Homo sapiens: one gene and its partner. The protein of the gene in region 2 purifies or fractionates together with the protein of the main gene of each other region. This does not show direct contact. Each region holds a gene or a part of one and is shown on either strand. Other genes may lie near its edges.

Region 1 (4,518 bases), on a different chromosome or scaffold from region 2:
TTCTTGATGCAGTTCCCCTGCATCAGTGACCCCTCTAGCCCAGCCACACTTGCCTTGGTCTTAGGTTCTGGAGAAGGAGAAGAAACGTAAGAAGCGAAGTGAGGATGAATCAGAGACAGAAGATGAAGAGGAGAAAAGCCAAGAGGACCAGGAGCAGAAGAGGAAGAGGTAAGGTGGGGCAAGCAAATGAGATTAAAAAGTTAGTGGCCAAGAAGTTGGGGGTGCACGCCTGTAATCTTAGCAATTTGGGAGGCCGAGGCGGGTGGGTCACTTGAGTCCAGGAGTTTGAGACCAGCCTGGGAAATATGGCAAAACTGTCTCTACAAAAAATAGAAAAATTAGCTGGGCGTGGTGGCGGACACTTGTGGTCCCAGCTGCTCGGTAGGCTGGGGTCGGAGGATTGCTTGAGCCTGGGAGGCAGAGGTTGCAGTGAACCAGGATCGTGCCACTGCACTCCAGCCTGGGCGACAGAGAGAGATCCCATCTCAAAAAAAAAAAAAAAAAGTAGTAAGTTCCAGTGGGACTGGGGAGAGAAGTAGAGGGTAGAAGGTGGAACCAGCGCTGCTTATTGATGTCAGGTTGTTCATGGAGAGTGTTCCTAGACCTGCGGGGTTTGAGGATGAAGATAACCTGGGTAGGCTGGGCGCGGTGGCTCACGCCTGTAATCCCAGCACTTTGGGAGGCCGAGGCAGGCGGATCACGAGGTCAGGAGATCAAGACCATCCTGGCTAACAGTGAAACCCTGTCTCTACTAAAAATACAAAAAATTAGGCTGGCGTGGTGGCAGGCACCTGTAGTCCCAGCTACTTGGGAGGCTGAGGCAGGAGAATGGCGTGAACCCAGGAGGCAGAGCTTGCAGTGAGTGGAGATCACACCACTGCACTCCAGCCTGGGTGACAGAGTGAGACTCCGTCCGTCTCAAAAAAAAAAAAAAAAGAAGATACCCTGGGTAAAAGAGAAGGAGAGCGAGTCCTTCTTGTGTGCTTTTGACCCCTCTACTGAAGAAATGCTAAATAGTAGGAACAGCAACCCAACCACTGAGGGTTTTGAATATATACTTCAAAATTCTAAGGGAAAAACCTTCATGCTTATAGTTGAATTTATAAGGGTGAGTGATGTGGAAAAGAGCGTTGGGAAGCAGCGCCTGTTTGTGTTCTAGTCTGGGGACTTGGTCTCGTTTGGAACAAGCAGCAGTTTGCAAAGGCCTAAGCCTAGTGCTTCACTTTGACTTAGTGGTTCTGTTTCCTTTTCTCCGTAGTTAGAGGCACGTGATGGGGCTTCCTTGCCTTTCTGTCTCCAAACTCTTTCTCTCTCTTAACTGCTGTGGGTATTTTAGAAGGAAGACTCGCCAGCCAGATGCCAAAGATGGGGATTCATACGACCCCTATGACTTCAGTGACACAGAGGAGGAAATGCCTCAAGGTGAGTGAGCCCACTTACTGATGAAAGAGGTTGTTCCTGTGACTCTTGGACTTTTCCAGTTGCTCTGTGCACTTTATTTTCTTGTGGACTCCTGTTTGTTTGGCTCCCTGCTTGGGGCCTATGTCCAAGAGGTTTGTCCCAAGAGAGCTTCAGGGGAAACTTTGGAAAAAGCTTTGCTATATTATATACACCTCCTTGATGAACTGTGCTGTGCTGTTTCACCTGGTATAAGCATTTCAGATAATATATACATTGAGGGTCTCCTGCCTGACTAAATTCCTTCATCATCCAATGAAGATTTCCCTATATCCTAATTGTTCTGCCTGGCCCCATAAGAACCCTAGGAAATAGGAGTGTTCAGCAGGCTGAGTGAGAGATTGGGAGTGGAGATGATTTCTCTAGTGTTTGTGGAAATGGCTTCACCTTGCTTATCTTCCCCATCTCTACAACCATCAACCCTCTGAAGTACACACTCCAAAGACGGCAGACTCACAGGAGACCAAGGAATCCCAGAAAGTGGAGTTGAGTGAATCCAGGTGAGTACGGATGTTGCTCCTGCCCCTTCAAGAATTCTGTGTATCGCTGAGGAAGGGACTTTGTTCCCTTGGAGAGGGTGGGAAACAAACTGCTGGTCATCAATAGAACTCAAAACTAGAGGCCTGCAGCTTTTAACATTTTATATTCTCATTTAATTTCAAACTTACTGAAAAGTTATGAGAAAAGCATGAAGAACTTCTGGATGTCCTTTACCCAGAATCTTCAGTTGTTTAAATTAATAATTCTCTCTTTCTGAGAGAGAAGAGTTTTACAATAAGGATAAAACTTAATGTCTTACTGTAACCTCAGATTCTTCTTGGTGGGATAGATACATTTTGGCCATTTGTTTTTGAAATGAAGAATTTTTACCACCAGGGTTTTAGGAAACATTTTTATCTATGAATTTTGTTTACTGGACACCAAGAAACTCCATAGCCAAGTTTTACGTTTTTTCTTTTTATACTTTAAACACATAATACAGTGTATTTACTGAAAAAAATTTGAAACACATTGAAAAGTATTTAGAAAAAAAATTAAAATCAATTGTAACTCTATCCCTCAAGGACAACCATCAACTGTATCTTAAAATGCTTGAATCAGCTCGTATAGATCTCACTTTTTTTTTTGAGACCGGAGTGCAGTGTTTATTTTTTACTTTTTTACAGTGTTTATTTTTTACTTTTTGTAGAGACGGGATCTCACCATGTTGCCCAGGCTGGTCTTGGACTCCTGGCCTCAAGCAGTCCTTCTACCTGAGCCTCCCAAAAGGCTGGGATTACAGGCATAAGCCACTGTGCTTGTTTGATCTCATTCTTTTTAATGACTGCAGGGTTTCCATGGTATGGATGGGTAAAAATTTAATGAAATTCTCTGATGATAGACATTTGGGTTGTTCCCTGTTTACAGTAAAACAGTATTAAATTTATCAGTGTGCACTCATGCAAGTATAGCTATAAGGTGAGTTCCTAGAAATGGGCTCCCTGGGCCAAAGGATATACGCTTTTAAGGGTTTAGTAAGTGCTGTTAAATTGTCCCGCATTGACGCTGACCGGGTTACTATTTTACAGTGAATGGGAATGCCAATTTCCCACACGCTAGTACAATAGTTTAGCTTTAAAGGGGGCTCCTCAAGGGTAGCACTGCCATCAGAGGCAGATGTGTGTGTGAGAAAGAATATTGAGGGGACGCCTCTACTGTATTAATACTATGGATTTTCCTAGTATAGCTGTTTCCTGAGAGCATTTGGGTTTGTTTACTCCTCTTCCCCCTTTCTTCTGTCTGGGGCAGGTTGAAGGCATTCAAGGTGGCCCTCTTGGATGTGTTCCGGGAAGCTCATGCGCAGTCAATCGGCATGAATCGCCTCACAGAATCCATCAACCGGGACAGCGAAGAGCCCTTCTCTTCAGTTGAGATCCAGGCTGCTCTGAGCAAGATGCAGGATGACAATCAGGTCATGGTGTCTGAGGGCATCATCTTCCTCATCTGAGGAGGCCTCGTCTCTGAACTTGGGTTGTGCCGAGAGAGTTTGTTCTGTGTTTCCCACCCTCTCCCTGACCCAAGTCTTTGCCTCTACTCCCTTAACAGTGTTGAATTCAACTGAAGGCGAGGAATGTTGGTGATGAAGCTGAGTTCAGGACTCGGTGGACCCTTTGGGAATGGGTCATGAAAGCTGCCATGGGGTGAGGAAAGAGGAGACAGTGGGAGAGGACAATGACTATTGCATCTTCATTGCAAAAGCACTGGCTCATCCGCCCTACTTCCCATCCCACACAAACCCAATTGTAAATAACATATGACTTCTGAGTACTTTTGGGGGCACAACTGTTTTCTGTTTGCTGTTTTTTTGTTTTGTTTTTTTTCTCCAGAGCACTTTGGTCTAGACTAGGCTTTGGGTGGTTCCAATTGGTGGAGAGAAGCTCTGAGGCACGTCATGCAGGTCAAGAAAGCTTTCTTTGCAGTAGCACCAGTTAAGGTGAATATGTATTGTATCACAAAACAAACCCAATATCCAGATGAATATCCGAGATGTTGAATAAACTTAGCCATTTCGTACACATGGTCTTAATAGTCATAGTGTGTTTTTTATACATAACATTGAATTGTTTTCCTTGAGAGCAATCGTGCAGGGTTTGCTGCTCCCGCATTTGCAGCAAACTACCACAAGGTGGCAGCAGCCTGCTGTGATCTCTGGGGGTCATGTCTTCTCTAGAGGCAGTTTTCTTCTTCAGCAGCACCAGCGTTTATCAGTCAAAATTGATAGTATAGACCAAACCCTGCCAATTTAAAATAGCTAAATGGCCACGGGAGGCTAGTGAGTAAAAGTTCAGGAGAAGAATTGCCCCTCTGCCTGGCGCTTTTTGCCTGAATCTAAACTTATCCTTCATAAAGATAGAATACCCGATACGTCAGACACCTCAAAATCCTGGGAGTTCTTGCCCATAATGAGATCTTGTTACAGTATCTTTTTTTTTTTTTTTTTTTTTTTTTTTGAGACAGGGTCTCGCTTTGTGCCCAGACTAGAGTGCAGTGGTACAATCACAGCTGATGACAGCCTTGACC
Region 2 (7,290 bases):
CATCGGTAATAGAAAGCAATAGTGAACAGCATATTTCCTTCCCTTTGAGGAGCTTTTACTCTAGTGGTGGAGACAGGAAGTAGAAAGGTAATTACACTAGAGTGTGGATAAAAGCTATAATGTGAGTGAGCATAAGATGTCATGGCAAAACTCCTGACCCATTTCCTGAGTTCAGAGGTTTGCCAAAAGCAGTGCTATCTCAAGAGGTCTACAGAATAAGCAGATGCTATGAGGATCAAATAAGACACATGGAAAAGCTTCATAAAATGCAAAGCACTATGTAAATAAAGCCTCTAATTTTTTCTCCTGAAAAGTAGGACAGCCAGGCGCAGTGGCTCACACCTGTAGTCCCAACACTTTGGGAAGCCTAGGCAGGTGGATCGCTTGAGGTCAGGAGTTCAAGACCAGCCTGGGCAACACAGCGAGACCCTGTGTCTACAAAAAATACAAAAATTAGCCAGGCATGGTGGTGTGTACCTGTAGTCCCAGCTACTTGGGAGGCCGAGGCAGAAGAATCGCTTGGGCACGGGAAGGAGAGGTTGCAGTGAGCTGAGATTCAGCCACTGCACTCCAGCTTAGGTAACAGAGCGAGACCCTGCTTAAAAAAATAAATAAATAAATAAATAATTAAAAAAAAGAAAAGCAGGAGAGTGAGTCAATACCCAAATCCTGCTTCTCCCAAGTCAGGGCTGTGAACCAGTCTTTGGTGTGGGTACTGAAAAGTCAAACAGGATGAACTGAGAGGCCCCTGAAGGTCATGCTCCATTAAAGAACTTACAATCAAACACACCAAAACTTAGGAGCATGGAGTCCAGCAGATCTGGATTTGAGTATTGAATTAGTATTACTAACAAGACTTTGGACAAGTTGCTTAACCACTTTGGGCACATGCGCTACTGTGAGGATTACATGAAAACGTCAGCACAGTGTCTGACACACAGTAAATGCTCAATAAATGATAGTACCTAGTATTACAGATAATACCACAGAGCTCTGAGTGCAAAAATACCCTTTAGCAAAGTCTCGTTGGTACTACTGCATCTTTCAAGTCCAGTTATGACAGAATTTTAAGCTGTAGCAACTAGAGTTATAGGAAGGTTCTGGTACAAAATCTTTTTTTTTTTTTTTTTTAAGACAGAATTTCACTCTTGTTGCCCAGGCTGGAGTGCAATGGCGTGATCTCGGCTCACTGCAACCTCTGCCACCTGGGTTCAAGCGATTCTCCTGCCTCAGCCTCCCAAGTACCTGGGATTACAGGTGTGTGCCACCACGCCAGGCTAATTTTTGTTTGTTTGTTTGTTTTTTGAGACGGAGTCTTGCTCTGTTGCCCAGGCTGGAGTGCAATGGCATGATCTTGGCTCACTGCAACCTCCGCCTCCCGGGTTCAAGTGATTCTCCCACTTCAGCCTCCCAAGAAGCTGGGATTACAGGTGCGCATGACCATGCCTGGCTAATTTTTGTATTTTTAGTAGAGACAGGGTTTCACCATGTTGGCCAGGCTGGTCGTGAACTCCTGACCTCAAGTGATCTGCCCGCCTCAGCCTCCCAAAGTGCTGGGATTACAGGCATGAGCCACCGCGCCTGGCCCAAAATCTGTTTATACAAAGCAAAGTCTCTGTGTTTCCAGGATACAAATTCCTTGGAGTTTGCATTTTGTCCCAGGGTTTTTTTTATTTTAATGTGAACCAATAATTTTATTTTTCAGAGATAGGGTCTTGGTCTCACCCAGACTGGAGTGCAATGTCTCAATCACAGCTCACTGCATCCTCAAACTCCTAAGTTCCAGTGATCCTCGTGCTTCAGCCTCCTGAGCAGCTGGGACTACAGGTATGTGCCACCATGCTGGTGAATTGTTTTTGTTTTTTGTTGAGACAGAGTCTTGCTCTGTGGCCCAGACTGGAGTGCAGTGGCATGATCTTGGCCTACTGCAACCTCTGCCTCATGGGTTCAAGCAATTCTCGTGCCTCAGCTTCCCAAATAGCTGGGACTACAGGTGCGTGCCATCACACCCAGCTAATTTTTGTATTTTTAGTAGAGAAGGAGTTTTGTCATGTTGCCCAGGCTGGTCTCAAACTCCTGGCCTCAAATGATCCACCCACTGTGGCCTCCCAAAGTGCTGGGATTACAGGCATGAGCCACTGTGCCCAGCCTGTCCTAGGCTTTTCACTGATTCCACTTTGGGTTCATGGACAACTGTCACAATCCCAACTTTATGGATCTGGAGACCGACACGACCAGCTTGAGCTTATTCCAATAATAACCAATACAGGACTAGATTCCAGACTTTCTAAAGTTCAATTTAAGGCTCTCTTTGTGTTGCTGTTGAGACAGAGTCTCACTGTGTCACCCAGTCTGGAGTGCAGTGACATGATCTTGGCTCACTGCAATCTCCACCTCCTGGATTCAAGCGATTCTGTCTCAGCCTTCTGAGTAGCTGGGATTACAGGTGTGCATCAACACGCCTGGCTAATTTTTGTATTTTTAGTAGAGACGGGGTTTCACCATGTTGGCCAGGCTGGTCTTGAACCCCTGACCTCAAGTAATCTGCCCACCTTGGCCTCCTCAAGCGCGGGGATTACAGGTGTGCGCCACCATGCCTGGCCGCAATTTAAGGCTCTTTCCACCTCACCACAATGCTTTCAAGGTATAACCAGAAAATGCTATAGCATAATTATTAGACTCTAAAATTATGAATCCCCAGGGTTTTTGTACTTGGCATGTGGTAGGTGTTCAATAAATGTTTCCTGACTGAACTAAAATATTTATGGCAGATCAGAGATTATTCTAATGGGAGAAGGAAACTGTAGTAGACTCACACTGGCCAACACCCACAAACCTCTTGCTGTCGTAGTTCAGAGCACGTTTAACAGATGAACTTAAGCTGTACAAACTGTGAGAAGAAAGAGCCCCCCTTCCTTGACTCTCCCTTACAGCTCTTTCTACATTGTGGGGCTGCCCAGTACCTGCACCACCAGGTTCCCACGGCTCCGACAGAATCGCTCCAACATTTTGAGGAAGAGGTGGGTGGTCTCCACCAGGTCACGAAGGAAAGAGCGGGGCTGGCATCTCTCATCAAACTTTCGAAAAAGTGCCAGGAATAGTTCTCGGTACTCCATCACATAGAAAATATTGTCTAGGAATGGGGAAGAGAAAGGGATGGAAGGGCTATTCTGGAAAGCTTGAAAAGGAGAGATGGATGAAGCTGGGACTGGGAAGAATGAGATTCTCATCACGAGATGGGACAGGCTGGGATCGGGGACCAGGCCAGGGCCTCACTCTTGATGATGCGGCTGCTCTCCCTCACAGCCTCATCTGGAGATATGTCCATCTCATTCACTGTTGCCAGCAGCTCCTGATAGGCCTTCAGAGCCAAGTGCATCCTGAGAGTTGACGGGAAACGGTGAAATGGAGGACAGCTTAGGGCAATGGCCCATGGAAACAGCAACTTCCCACAGCGAAAAAAAAAAATGTGCCACCCAAACTAAATTTCCCAGCCAGTCCTTGCTCCCCAGACTGATCACCTGAACCCTGAATCAGGAAAAAAGCACCAGCCAGAATTCAAGCATTCAGATCCCTAGCTCACTGTATCTCCAGTAACCATCCCACTCACCGGCGTGCCCAGGAGGCAGCTTCCTTGCGGTCAGTCAGCATCATCTCATAGTAGTTGGTGAGGTTCTGCTCAATGAAGTGGAAGGTACGGACACTGAGGGTCTCAGAAACCAGGCCTGGCCGGAAGGAGGCAGCTCGGTTGAAGGCCATGAAGAAAGCCAAGGCCCACATATAATAGGTCTCATCATGCTGCTGAGCTTTCTCCCGAAGCAGGTGATCCTGACATTTAAAAAAGAAAAAAAAAGATCACCATGACTCCAGGGCTTCCAACTTCTTCCTTCCTGTCCTATGATGATGGAATGGATGCTGGACACCGTCATAATTTTTTTTTTTTTGAGGCGGAGTCTCACTCTATTGCCCAGGCTGGAGTGCAATGGCATGATCTCGGCTCACCGCAACTTCCACCTCCTGGGTTCAAGCGATTCTCCTGCCTCAGCCTCCTGGGTAGCTGGGATTATAGGTGCCCGCCACCACGCCCAGTTAATTTTTTGTATTTTCAGTAGAGATGGGGTTTCACCATGTTGCAGGCTGGTCTCAAACTCCTGACCTCAGGTGATCCACCTGCCTTGGACTCCCAAAGTGCTGGTATTACAGGCGTGAGCCACTGCGCCTGGTCTTTTTTTTTTTTTTTTTTTTTTTTGACAGTCTTGCACTGTCATGATGAGGCTGGAGTGCACTGGTCTGATCTCGGCTCACTGCAACCTCTGCCTCCCAGGTTCAAGTGATTATCCTGCCTCAGGCTCCTGAGTAACTGGGACTACAAATGCACACCACCATGCCGGCTAATTTTTTTTTTTTTTTGTATTTTTTTTTTTAGTAGAGATACGGTTTCACCATATTGGCCAGGTTGGTCTTGAACTCCTGACCTCAAGTGATCCACTGCCTCAGCCTCTCAAAGCGCTGGGATTACAGGTGTGAGCCACCACGCCGGGACACCGCTATAATACTCTAGGATCCACAATTTCCAACTCTCTCCTGTTCTCCCTTTCCTCTCCCTCTGAGGCAATTTTTCCAGAGCCTCTTTTGTCATGCCAGGAGCCCACTCGTTCCTGGCATTTTCACTATCTCTCAGGGACATCCTAACTGTATATCCTTCCCACCTACGAGTCCACATTCCAGGGGCAGCCTCCCCGAGCTCCTCCCCACTTCTTACCCACCAACAGCTGCATCATCACCTGTCTATTCCATTCCTGATTATCTCCATATCCTTCACAGGTTCTCACCTTTACTGATCCCATGAGCCGGTTGTAACAGTTCTCCAGGAACTCAGAGCAGAAGTCTCTGAGGAAGAGCCTCACATTGAGGGCAGAACGGCGCTGAATGGACAGCTCTCGGGCGGCCTGGCGACGTTTAGGCACCTTTTTCGGCTGCTTTCCCAAATCTGAACTGTAGTTTCGTAGCTGGGTGTGTCGGTTGGGGGATTAGAATTACTCCTAAATACCACTTTCCCCTTGCAGCTCTCGTCAATTTTCTCAGAAGAAACTAATTTTTGTTTTTCTTTTGAGACAAGAACTTGCTCTGTCACCCAGGCTGGAGTGTAATGATGCAATCATAGCACACTGGAGCCTTGAACTCCTGGGCTCAAGGAATCCTCCCACCTCAGCCTCCCGAGTAGTCAGGACCACAGGCGGGTGCCACCATGCTCAGTTAGTATTTTTCACTTGTTGTAGGGACAGGGTTTTGCCATGTTGCCCAGGCTGGTCTCGAACTCCTGGGCTCAAGCAATTCTCCTTCCTTAGCTTCTCAAAGTGTTAAGATTACAGGCATGAGCCATTGTACCCAACCTTTAATTTAATTTTTTTTTTAGAGACAGGGTCTTGCCATGTTGCCCAGTCTGATCTTGAACTTCTGGGCTCAAGCAATCCTCCTGCCTCAGCCTCCCAAAGTGCTGGGACCACAAGTGTGAGCCACCAGGCACAGCCAAGAACTCTTAAGATGATTACCCTGCTTAAGCTATGCAACTCCACTATGTTCCCACTCCAGATGTAAGAATACTCACGTTGTGAAGGCCTTTGTGAAAGATGAGGTCCCTCTCCCCAATGGATTTCAACCCCTGGACAATATAGGAGCCCCCAAATCGAGAATGCCTGCAGAAACAAAAAGGTCCAAGGTGATTTTTCAGTTCTCTGGAAACTTTATCTCCATTCTCTATCATCGGCACATTGGAGCAAGTTAAAACTACAAAATGTTGGTCGGGCACGGTGGCTCACGCCTATAATCCCAGCACTTTGGGAGGCTGAGGCAGGCGGATCACCTGAGGTCGGGAGTTTGAGACCAGCCTGGCCAACATGGTGAAACCCTGTCTCTACTAAAAATACAAAAATTAGCCTGGCATGGTGGCATGCGCCTGTAGTCCCAGCTACTGGGGAGGCTGAGGCAGGAGAATCGCTTGAACCCAGGAGACAGAGGTTGCAGTGAGCAGAGATCGTGCCAGTGCACTCCAGCCTGGGCGACAAGAGCAAAATTCTGTCTCAAAAAAAAAAAAAAAAAACACTAAAATGTTGTTCAATCACCCCACCTTAGAATTTGCCTTCTATGCCCTCAGCATTCCATGATGTAGGAAAAAGAACCTGCCTCTCTGTCACTCACCTGTTGCCTCGCTGGAGGGCTCGAGTCTTCTTTTCTGCCATCTCTCGCTGGCGCAACACCTCCAGTTCTGCAAAATCTGCACTCCGCTCCTGAGCTAAGCGTCCCTGCCCTACTCCCGCCAGCTGCTCGGGGTTCTAGATTGGAACAAAGAGGGAAGAATCAGGAGGACAGTCATTCCTTATCCTGAGTTCACGCCTACTGGGGATGCAAAGAGTGAACAAAATAGAACCCCATTAATGGGGCATTGTGCTGTCGTTCTCCCTTATCTGAGGGGGAAATGTTCTAAGACACCCACTGGATGCCTGAAACTGCAGACAGTACTGAAATATATATATGTATATATTCATATATACATATATATATTTGTATGTGTATACACATATACATAGAACATGTACGTTCTATGTTTTATAGAATGTATATATGTGCTATATATATAGTTATCAGAAAACAGAACATGTATACATATATATATACGCACATACACATATTCTATTATGTTTTTTCAATTTGATAACTAAGATGGCTAGTACATGACTAACAGGCGGGTATACACTGTGGATATGCTGGGCAGAGGGATGATTCACATCTTGTTTAGGACAAACAGGGACAAAAGATTTCATCACACTACTCAGAACAATGTACAAGTTTAAAACTTCTAAAATGTTTATTTCTGAAATTTTCCACTTAATATTTTCAGACCATGGTTGACTGTGAGTAACTGAAATCAAGGAAAGAAAACCATGAATAAGGGGGTACTACTGAACTCAAGACATGGCTACTCCTGCTGTCGCCTGCCTTCCCCAGATAATGCAGCCATTATCACAAGAGCAATTCTGGCTGTACAGCAGAAAAGTACATGGGCGGAGGGGACTCGGGCAATAGGCCAGGGTCTCACCTGGTCACGAAACATAAGGGAGACAATCTCTAGCACATGTAGGCTCCATTGCTCCTCAGCAGACGAGCTGGCCAGAAAGAGGAGCAGGTCATCCAGGCCGCTGAGGTGAATCGCCCAGAGGAGCTGGTCATGGGCACTGGCGTCATCATCAATCTTCTGAGCAGTGAGTGGTGAGGGTAGAAAGGAAGCTCATT

The links.
Region 1: the proteins of TIMELESS (region 2) and MCM3 purify together in Homo sapiens (affinity purification with mass spectrometry; 3 studies listed by BioGRID and IntAct, with this or other methods). This does not show direct contact.

The regions. Positions count from the first base shown.
Region 1 is NC_000006.12:52,263,515-52,268,032, reverse strand, and holds the end of MCM3 (DNA replication licensing factor MCM3), read left to right. Parts: intron 1-26; exon of another isoform or gene 27-64; coding exon 65-168; intron 169-1,336; coding exon 1,337-1,422; intron 1,423-1,888; coding exon 1,889-1,958; intron 1,959-2,624; exon of another isoform or gene 2,625-2,647; coding exon of another isoform or gene 2,648-2,798; intron 2,799-3,246; coding exon 3,247-3,445; 3' UTR 3,446-4,018; downstream 4,019-4,518. UniProt on the Homo sapiens protein: Acts as a component of the MCM2-7 complex (MCM complex) which is the replicative helicase essential for 'once per cell cycle' DNA replication initiation and elongation in eukaryotic cells.
Region 2 is NC_000012.12:56,425,273-56,432,562, forward strand, and holds part of TIMELESS (protein timeless homolog), read right to left. Parts: intron 7,253-7,290; coding exon 7,097-7,252; intron 6,333-7,096; coding exon 6,199-6,332; intron 5,697-6,198; coding exon 5,609-5,696; intron 5,010-5,608; coding exon 4,833-5,009; intron 3,829-4,832; coding exon 3,611-3,828; intron 3,381-3,610; coding exon 3,277-3,380; intron 3,134-3,276; coding exon 2,964-3,133; intron 1-2,963. UniProt on the Homo sapiens protein: Plays an important role in the control of DNA replication, maintenance of replication fork stability, maintenance of genome stability throughout normal DNA replication, DNA repair and in the regulation of the circadian clock.